Regions from separate parts of the Homo sapiens genome. Here all the other regions are linked to region 2. Evidence: fine-mapped expression QTL. A gene starts in region 2. Each other region holds a variant in brackets. All regions are shown on one strand. Distances are from middle to middle. Region 1 has its middle 80 kb from the start of SKAP2. Region 2 holds the start of HOXA1 (homeobox A1). Region 3 has its middle 59 kb from the start of SKAP2.

Region 1 (2,850 bases), 150 kb before region 2:
AAGTAAAAGTGAAGGGATTTTTTAAAACATTATTTTTTAAGTACATAAAATTCCTTTATTTTGTTCTACTCTGTTTAGATCATTACTACAGAAAATAACATCTAAATACTAACCACTTCAACTTCACTAGATCAGCTAAAACAACTAAAAGATTTAATGGAAGGGTGTTTATATTATGGAAGACAATTAGGTAAGACAGTTAATGTAAGAATAAGCTATCTTGTTAAGTAGGTCATCCAAAGAAAGGCATGTACTAAGTACTTCTATGTTTTAGCTAAAAAATATAAATAAATATGAAATGAACATATTAATATTACAGTTACAAATAAATAACAATAAAAACATTGTTTTAATTGGACATCCAGTACATCCCCAAATTTGTTTTTCAGTATTATCTTTCAAAGTCACTCAACCATAGCACACATTTTGTAAATGTCCTATATTTTACATGAATTGTATACAGGGCTTTTATTTAATTTTTCACATTTATTTTACACTGATATTTGACAACCAATTTTAAATTGGCATAATTAGCAATTACCTTAGTATTCCTGTTTTTCAGTCTGAATACTCTTCATTCAAATGATGATTAGTTTGTTTGTAGTAATTAGCATTTTAGCCAGGGAAATGGTTTACAAACTATGTTGCTTTACATCCATTTTGCTAAAGAGAAAAGAAAAGTGCTATTTACTTTAATACTAACTGTATTTTTTAAATTGTGCCTTAAATTCATTTATGAAATAAATTTGAAAAATCAGAAGGGCTTGGTGTATTTACCTACATCACTAATTAGACTATAATAGCTTCTTCTAAGAAGACTGCAGGTACTCTCCCTGCTCTTAATGGAATGTAGCAACTGTTTCTCAAATCACCCTCATGACAGCATTATGCAATTTTATCTGTCTATATTCTATTTCTACTTTATATTGTGGATACATTGGAGCCATATAGGAGTGTTTTCTATCATTGCAAAAGCCAGATAAAATAGTTTAACTACTACATCAAGTGGGAAATTATATATATAAATTGTCTGCTGCTGTCTATAGATTATGTCTGTAAAAGTTAAAAGCATTTTTCCCCTTTTAGAGAGAACACTCCCAATGCCTTCCTTTGCCTCATATATAAATTATCTTTTAAGGGACCAGGTGCAATAGGCAAAGAGTTGGCTGTCTTCCCAACCCAGCTTTGCATACTCGTAGAGCTAGGGGTCACAGAAATGCAGAATTTAGAGTACAAAGCCAAGTCAAGAATTATTTTCCTGCATCTTTTCCCTTAGGGGAGAGAAAGGGTGGTGGAATGGCAATTTGGGAGAAGTCATCTGAATTGAGATGAATTTAATTGCTTTTCCTGTTAATCTCCCTGCCTACACAGGTGGCTATGAGAGTCCTCTCTCCACAGATCCATGTCAGTGTCAACATTAAGAGGAACCGAGAATTTGGAAATCTGGTCCAGGCAGTTCTCCAGCTTTGTTCCAGATGCAGGATGAACACAATTCTATTGGAAGCATTTGTGTGCGTGACATGATTAGACAATTAATATCCAGCAGAACACCAGACCCTACTCCTCCCAAACAAGTTTGGAGTTAATCCTAGAAAGCGTAGGTCCTCAGTGGCATGGGACTTTTTGTAGAGTTGTTTGATACTCCATA[GTATTTATT/G]TATTTATTTATTTATTTATTTATTTATTTATTTATTTATTTATATGATTTTGAACTCTGTGAGACCTGCTCCAGAGTACTCTTGGGAGGACAAGAAATTTCTAACTAACTAGGAAATGACTAGCAGGGAGGCTGCCTTGGGATATTGTTCAGACAGAGAAAGTAAAATTACCCTTCACCTTGGTTTCTGCATTTGCTACCATTATCCCTCGATATTCCTATGCCCAGTATGCTATGGTCAAATGAGAAGATTCTTTTTACATTTTGCTCTATTTAAGAAAGGCAGTGCAATCCCATGCATTTCTAATGGACTAAGATCAAGTCTAACTTCTGAAGTGATTTTCAGGAAATGTCTTAGAACATAATTATCTTTTAGACACCAGTCAAGTTGGAAGCTGAGGAGACACACAGAGACTCTGCATTTTCTGTTCCTTGACCTAGAATGCTCTTCATATAGCCAGCTTCTCATACTTCAGGTCTTGGTCTAAATGTCACTTTCTCAAGGAGATCTTTCATTACCACCCTTTCTAGATTCCCTAAACCTCCATCCCCAGCACTTTATTTCTCTCCTTCATGAAATTATTACACAATTATTTTAATTGTGCACTTCCTTTCTTCTCTCTCTGCCCCACAAGAATGGAAGCTTCCTGTACTTCGAACACAGTATACCTATAGTGTATATACAGTATAACCAAGAAAGATTTATCAATGAAAGAGTACTGAAGGTAACTGAGGAACTTTACTGAAACATTTAAAACATTTTATTTTTGATAAGTATATCAGTCAGCTTCTACTATATTATTCAGCAATAATAACTCCAAAAATCTCAATACTTAAAAAAGATTGTTTCTTGCTCACTTTTTTTTTTTTTTAATGAGACGGAGTTTCGCTCTTGTTGCCCAGGCTGGAGTGCAAAGGTGTGATCGTGGCTCACTGCAACCTCCACCTCCTGGGTTCAGGTGATTCTCCTGCTTCAGTCTCCCAAGTAGCTGGGATTACAGGCATCTGACACCACGCCCAGCTAATTTTTTGCATTTTTAGTAAAGCCAAGTTTTCATCATGTTGGCCAGGATGGTCTCAAACTACTGACCTCAGGTGATCCACCCACCTCAGCCTCCCGAAGTGCTGGGATTACAGGCGTGAGCCACCATGCCCGGCCCTCTTGCTTACTTTTTATGTGAGCTGCAGCTTTGC
Region 2 (2,500 bases):
GTAGCCGTACTCTCCAACTTTCCCTGGGGCAAAGTGGGAAGCCATGAGACGGAAATGTAAAAATTTTTAAATCGACTTGAGATTCCCCACACGCTTCATGGCAACACTCAGGTAAAGAAAAGATCAAGAACTCAGCACAAATCGGGCTGTGGAGGGTGAGTGATGAGGTGTAAAGTGTTAACCTGATGTAAACCATTAGCATGGTCAGACCGGTGATTAATGGAGCCTCAAGATATTAACAGAACACTACCGTCACAATAACCACCCCCACATACTTCCTATTTCCCAAATGTATAAAATCCTTGAAAACACACCAATCCCTGAGACTTCTTTGCCCCAACACCTCTGGGCACCCTCTCCATGCACTACAACACTAGTCTGATACAAAAGCCTTTTAAAAAAAAGATCATTATTAATTTCCTTGGAAATTAAGCATACCAGCTCCTTCCAGAATAATCAAGGAGCATCCACCAACCAGCAGGACTGACCTGTTTTGGGAGGGTTTCTTTTGACTTTCATCCAGTCAAAAGTCTGCGCTGGAGAAGATGTCTCCGATGCGGGGGAGCGACAGGCTTCTTGGTGGCTGGCGTGGAGAGGGGACAAGGAGTTATTATACGTAGCCAGGGCCAGGCTCTGGTGCTCCTGTCCATATGAGTGGTGAATGTATTGAGGCGAGCCCACCGCGCCCCCAGCATAACCCTGGTGGTGGTGGTGATGCTGGACCATGGGAGATGAGAGATTTCCAGAGTAAACAGCGGGAGCGCACTGGGGGTACCCACCACTTACGTCTGCTTCCTGATTTAACGCGTAGGGGCTGTAAGGCGCACTGAAGTTCTGTGAGCCATAGCTTGGACCACAACTTGAGTGGGAGTAGGACACCCCCAGGTTCCCGGAAGTCTGGTAGGTAGCCGGCTGGGGGTGGCGATGGTGGTGGTGGTGGTGGTGGTGGGGCGAACCGATCTGCACCCCCCTGCCCACTAGGAAGCGGTCGTCGCCGCCGCAACTGTTGGCGCTGACCGCGCACGACTGGAAAGTTGTAATCCTATGGTCCGAGGGGTAGGCTCGGGCTGAGCAGGTCCCCGAGTCGCCACTGCTAAGTATGGGGTATTCCAGGAAGGAGTTCATTCTTGCATTGTCCATCTGTCACTGAGTGACCTGGTCCTGCGAAGCCCGGCGTGACTGTGCCAACTTTCTCACTTCCTCCATGGGGCCGGAGAAGAAAAATGATATGAATGTACAGTGCGCAAGAGGGGGGGCGGGAGGGCGGAGGACGCTGGAGGAGGGGCACGTGACGGTGTCAGCCAATGGCTGAGCCTCCTGCAAAAGTTTGCCGGCTTCCGCAGTGATGGATCACCGTTTTAGTGGCATTTAAATCCCCGGCGCTCCGCCGTCTAGGTGACGCGCAGTCGCCCCCCCAGGCAGCCTAGGCGGCGGCAGCTGCTGCGGCGACTGCAAAGGCCGATTTGGAGTGCTGGAGCGAAGAAGAGCAAAAGCTGCGTTCTGCGCGCGCCCGACTCCGCTGCCCGCCCCGCCAGGCCTCCGGGAGGTGGGGGCTGGGAGGCGTCCCCCGCTCCCGCCCCCTCCCCACCGTTCAATGAAAGATGAACTGGCGAGAGGTGAGAAGGGAAGAGGGCTCCCGGCTCTCTCGGGGCGGGAATCAGTGGGCCAGAGCTCGCCGGGTGGCCGCAAGTACGCCGGCCCAGCCCGCAGCGCGCCCAGCCGGAAGGCGGGGAATCCGGCTGACACCGCGCCCCGGGTTCCCAGGCCACCTCCTCTGTTCTGAGGCTGGGCTGGGAGACCGTGGGGCTGTGAGGAGCGCATAGAACCGTGGTGGAGGGCGAGGCTGGGCCACCGGCTCTTCAAGCTCGGAATGGAGGGGGAAGAGCGCAGAGGGCTGGCTGGGAGGAACTCGGGTGGGCGTGAAGGAGACGAGGGCAAGAAAAGAAACTTCCCTTCTTCCAGGAGGGTCTTCGAAACCCTCTCCCCACAGCCCCTCTCGTCATTAGCATGGCAATGAGGAGTTTCTGTAATTCGACTTGGAGGGGCGGATGAGCCCTGGAAACTCAGAGCTCGCCGGAAAAGGCCGGGGGCGGCCGGGCTCTTCTTCCCCACCTTCCCTCTCTCGTCGCTCTCCGCCCCTTTCTCTTTCCCACTCAGTTTTGCACCGGGAGCCCTCCGGGATGCGGAGCTACTCGACCGCCGGATTTTTAGGGGTAGGAGGCGGGGGAGAGAGATGACGCTGGCGGACGTGGCCAGCGCGGGGGCCGGGCGGTGCGCTGCAGGCCATCTGCCGGCGCCCTGAGACCCAGGAGCCTCCGCGCTCCCGCGTGGGCCTCACAGGGCCGGTCCACAGCTCCAACATAGTAGCTGAACTCCCTTCGTTGCGTTCCTCTTTTTCTGGAGGGGAATGTTAGAAGAGAGAGAGAGCTTCCTTTTATAACCTTCCTCATTCTGCTGCACGTCTAGAGTGGGTGTGGGGGCTGGCAGGTGGGAGGGGCGG
Region 3 (2,850 bases), 170 kb before region 2:
TTGTCCTTCAAGCAGGAGTTAACACCGTCACCACCTTGGTGGAGAACAAGAAGGCTCAGCTGGTGGTGACTGTACATGATGTGGATCCCATCAAGCTTGTCTTCCTACCTGCCTTGTGTCATAAAATGGGGGTCTCTTCCCCTGCATTATCAAGAGGAAGGCAAGACTGGGACATATAGTCCACAGGAAGACCTGGATCACTGTCACCTTCACACAGGTGAACTTGGAAGACAAAGAAGCTTTGGCTAAGCTAGTGGAAGCTATCAGGACCAACTACAACAACAGATACGATGAGATCTGCCGTCACTGGGGAGGCAATGTCCTGGGTCCCAAATCTGTGGCTCGCATTGCCAAGCTTGAAAAGGCAAAGGCTAAAGAACTTGCCACCAAACTGGGTTAAATGCACACTGTTGAGATTTCTGTACATAAAAATAATTAAAATAATACAAATTTTAAGAAAAAGAAAAAGGGCAGGAGACCACCCATTGCAGTGGGCTATGCACTGGCTGAAGAATCCTTTTTTTTTTTTTTTTTTTTGAGACGGAGTCTTGCTCTGTCACCCAGGCTGGAGTGCAGTGGCATGATCCCAGCTCACTGCAAACTCTACCCCCCGGGTTCAAGTGATTCTTCTGCCTCAGCTGGGATTACAGTGATTCTTCTGCCTCAGCTGGGATTACAGGCACCTGCCACCATGCCCGGCTAATTTTTATATTTTTAGTAGTGACGGAGTTTCACCATGTTGGTCAGGCTGGTCTCGAACTCCTGGCCTCAAGTGATCTGCCCACTTCAGCCTCCCAAAAGAATCCTTCATCTTTAGTTTGCAGTGAGAAAGAAAGAACCACATAAGACTCTGCAATGGAGATACTGGAGTACAAGATTAGCCAGGGACAACTTTCTAGTTTAATGTGCAGAGTTCTGTGAATCTTTTTGTACTAAGTTTTCAGGAGTCTCCCCACCCTGAATTGGGTGTGCAGCCACTTTTTGATCCACTGGCACATAAGGCAGACACTGTGCCTAGTCTAAACAAGAAATGTTTCTCTCTTCTTCCCTGGTAACAAAACTCCAATTTGTATTCAGGTTTTTGAAAGAGATCCCTTGATTTCAGGAAGGGTAGACCCCTACCTCAACAACAAGGAATGAGCTGAAATTGGTCTAAATCAGTCATAGTAATTTTCTTTTCTTTCCTCAGGGATTGGCCAATAAGTGGGCACATGACTGAATCCTGGCCAAGGAGACAAAGGGAAAGTCCACTAGGGAAGGCTCTCTTGCTAATAAAAAGACAAGACTCCACAAGTAGAATGTCTCTACCAGTCTTCCTTCTTGTCCTGAACATGGACATGGTGACTGGAGCCATGGTAGCTATATTCTGGCCAGGAAAATGA[T/C]GAAGAAGCTGGCCCTGAAATCATTGGATTACTGAACTGACTCAGGCAACTGCCTACCTCCAGACTTCTTGTTATGTTAGAAATACAAAGCTCATTTGTTTAGGCCTGTACAGATGACTTTTCTATTTCTTGCAGTCAAATGCATTCTGATACTGTGCTTTGTCTACTTATTTCTTACCTCTGCCCTCTGACAGATGAGGCCCAACCCATTTTTCTTACTTGGCTTTATTTGAACAAAGATTCTAATAAGCACAAGAAACCACTCTGTTGATAACTCCTCTAATATAAAAGGAAAGAGTCATGTTCTGTAATAAGTATTTTGTATCCAATTGGTTTATAAATTGAAAACACAGTTTAAGCAGAAAGATAAAATCAAATACAGTCTCTTGCCTACTTACTTCTCATCTCTCTCTCTCATTTAGTTCAAAGAGACATAAAGTGACACCACTCCATCATTTTTGACAGAGCCACATGTGTAATGCAAAACATATGCTGAAGTTTTGTAATTACTTGGGTTCCTTGAGCAGAAGAGAAATGAGCTCATTGTATGTTCATGGTCTCTTCTCCTTCTGTGTCACCTGCTACCATACCAGGTTGATGCCCTCTCAGACATCAGTTACTACAAGCAATAATTATCATTATTATTCTAATGCCTTACATATGAATGCCGTTTGGCAATATTTCAGAGTGCTTTTAAGTTAGTTCTCTCCCTGAAGGCTCACAACTCTACCACTTACCTGTCATATCACTCCCATAAAAGATTACTGTAGAGACTCTGAGGGAAGGAATCCGCATTTTAGAGGAGAGATGTCATTTTCCTTCTCCCCTAAGTCTAGATCTGCTGCAGGCACAAATGGCCTCCTACTATCTGTTCAACCCCACTCCTCTCCTAAACTAATCATGACCAGCACCAAGAGGGGTGTGGAGTTAGTCTTGCTGTCTATAGCAAAGTAAAAATTCACAAGCCTGCCTATGGCCCTCTGGTCCTTCATCCTAGTGTAGGTATTTTTCCCACTCTGATCAGACCTCTGCTAGGATTTTCTAAGGTGATATTGGAATCTCTTACTGGAAGAAGAGTTCTATTCGAATCTTGGGCCTGATTCACTGCCAAGCCTTTGCTGATCACTTAGGCCCACAGACTAGATTTCTGTTCTAAACTGGATTGATCTTCTACTAAAATGTAAGTAATATGAAGCCAGAGAATGTGCTGTTATTTTACTGCACTATCCCTAGCACATAAAATAGATTCTCATTGGTTCACAGCAAGTGATTGGTAAATATCTGTTGAATGAATGAATGACTCTGATAACCATTCCTCACTAGAGGTTTCTGCTACTGTGTCCTAAACACCAGATTAAACCCCTTGGATACTGACATTAACCTAAGCCCATTCATAGCTGCCTTACCTCTTCAAATGACAAATATGAGCTGTTAGACACCTCTTCACTACAGACCTCCTGTTTCCACT

The links. PIP is the estimated chance that this variant, and not a neighbour inherited with it, causes the effect.
Region 1: its variant is fine-mapped to the expression of HOXA1 in whole blood (INTERVAL, PIP above 0.99).
Region 3: its variant is fine-mapped to the expression of HOXA1 in whole blood (INTERVAL, PIP above 0.99).

Annotation. Positions count from the first base shown.
Region 1 is chr7:26,943,492-26,946,341 of GRCh38, forward strand. No RefSeq gene overlaps it. Among named protein-coding and RNA genes, the nearest start is that of SKAP2, 80 kb to the left of the region's middle. The variant GTATTTATT/G (reference allele first, on the strand shown) is at 1,649.
Region 2 is chr7:27,094,773-27,097,272 of GRCh38, forward strand. It overlaps HOXA1 (homeobox A1), which reads right to left and starts at 1,228. Exons shown (of 2, transcript NM_005522.5): 1 at 489-1,228; 2 at 1-23. The coding sequence starts at 1,140. HOTAIRM1 (HOXA transcript antisense RNA, myeloid-specific 1) reads left to right here and starts at 1,322. Exons shown (of 2, transcript NR_038367.1): 1 at 1,322-1,616. RefSeq lists enhancers at 1-316, 1,198-1,492, 1,618-2,190 and a silencer at 1,545-1,714.
Region 3 is chr7:26,922,513-26,925,362 of GRCh38, forward strand. It overlaps the pseudogene RPL7AP38. Among named protein-coding and RNA genes, the nearest start is that of SKAP2, 59 kb to the left of the region's middle. The variant T/C (reference allele first, on the strand shown) is at 1,383.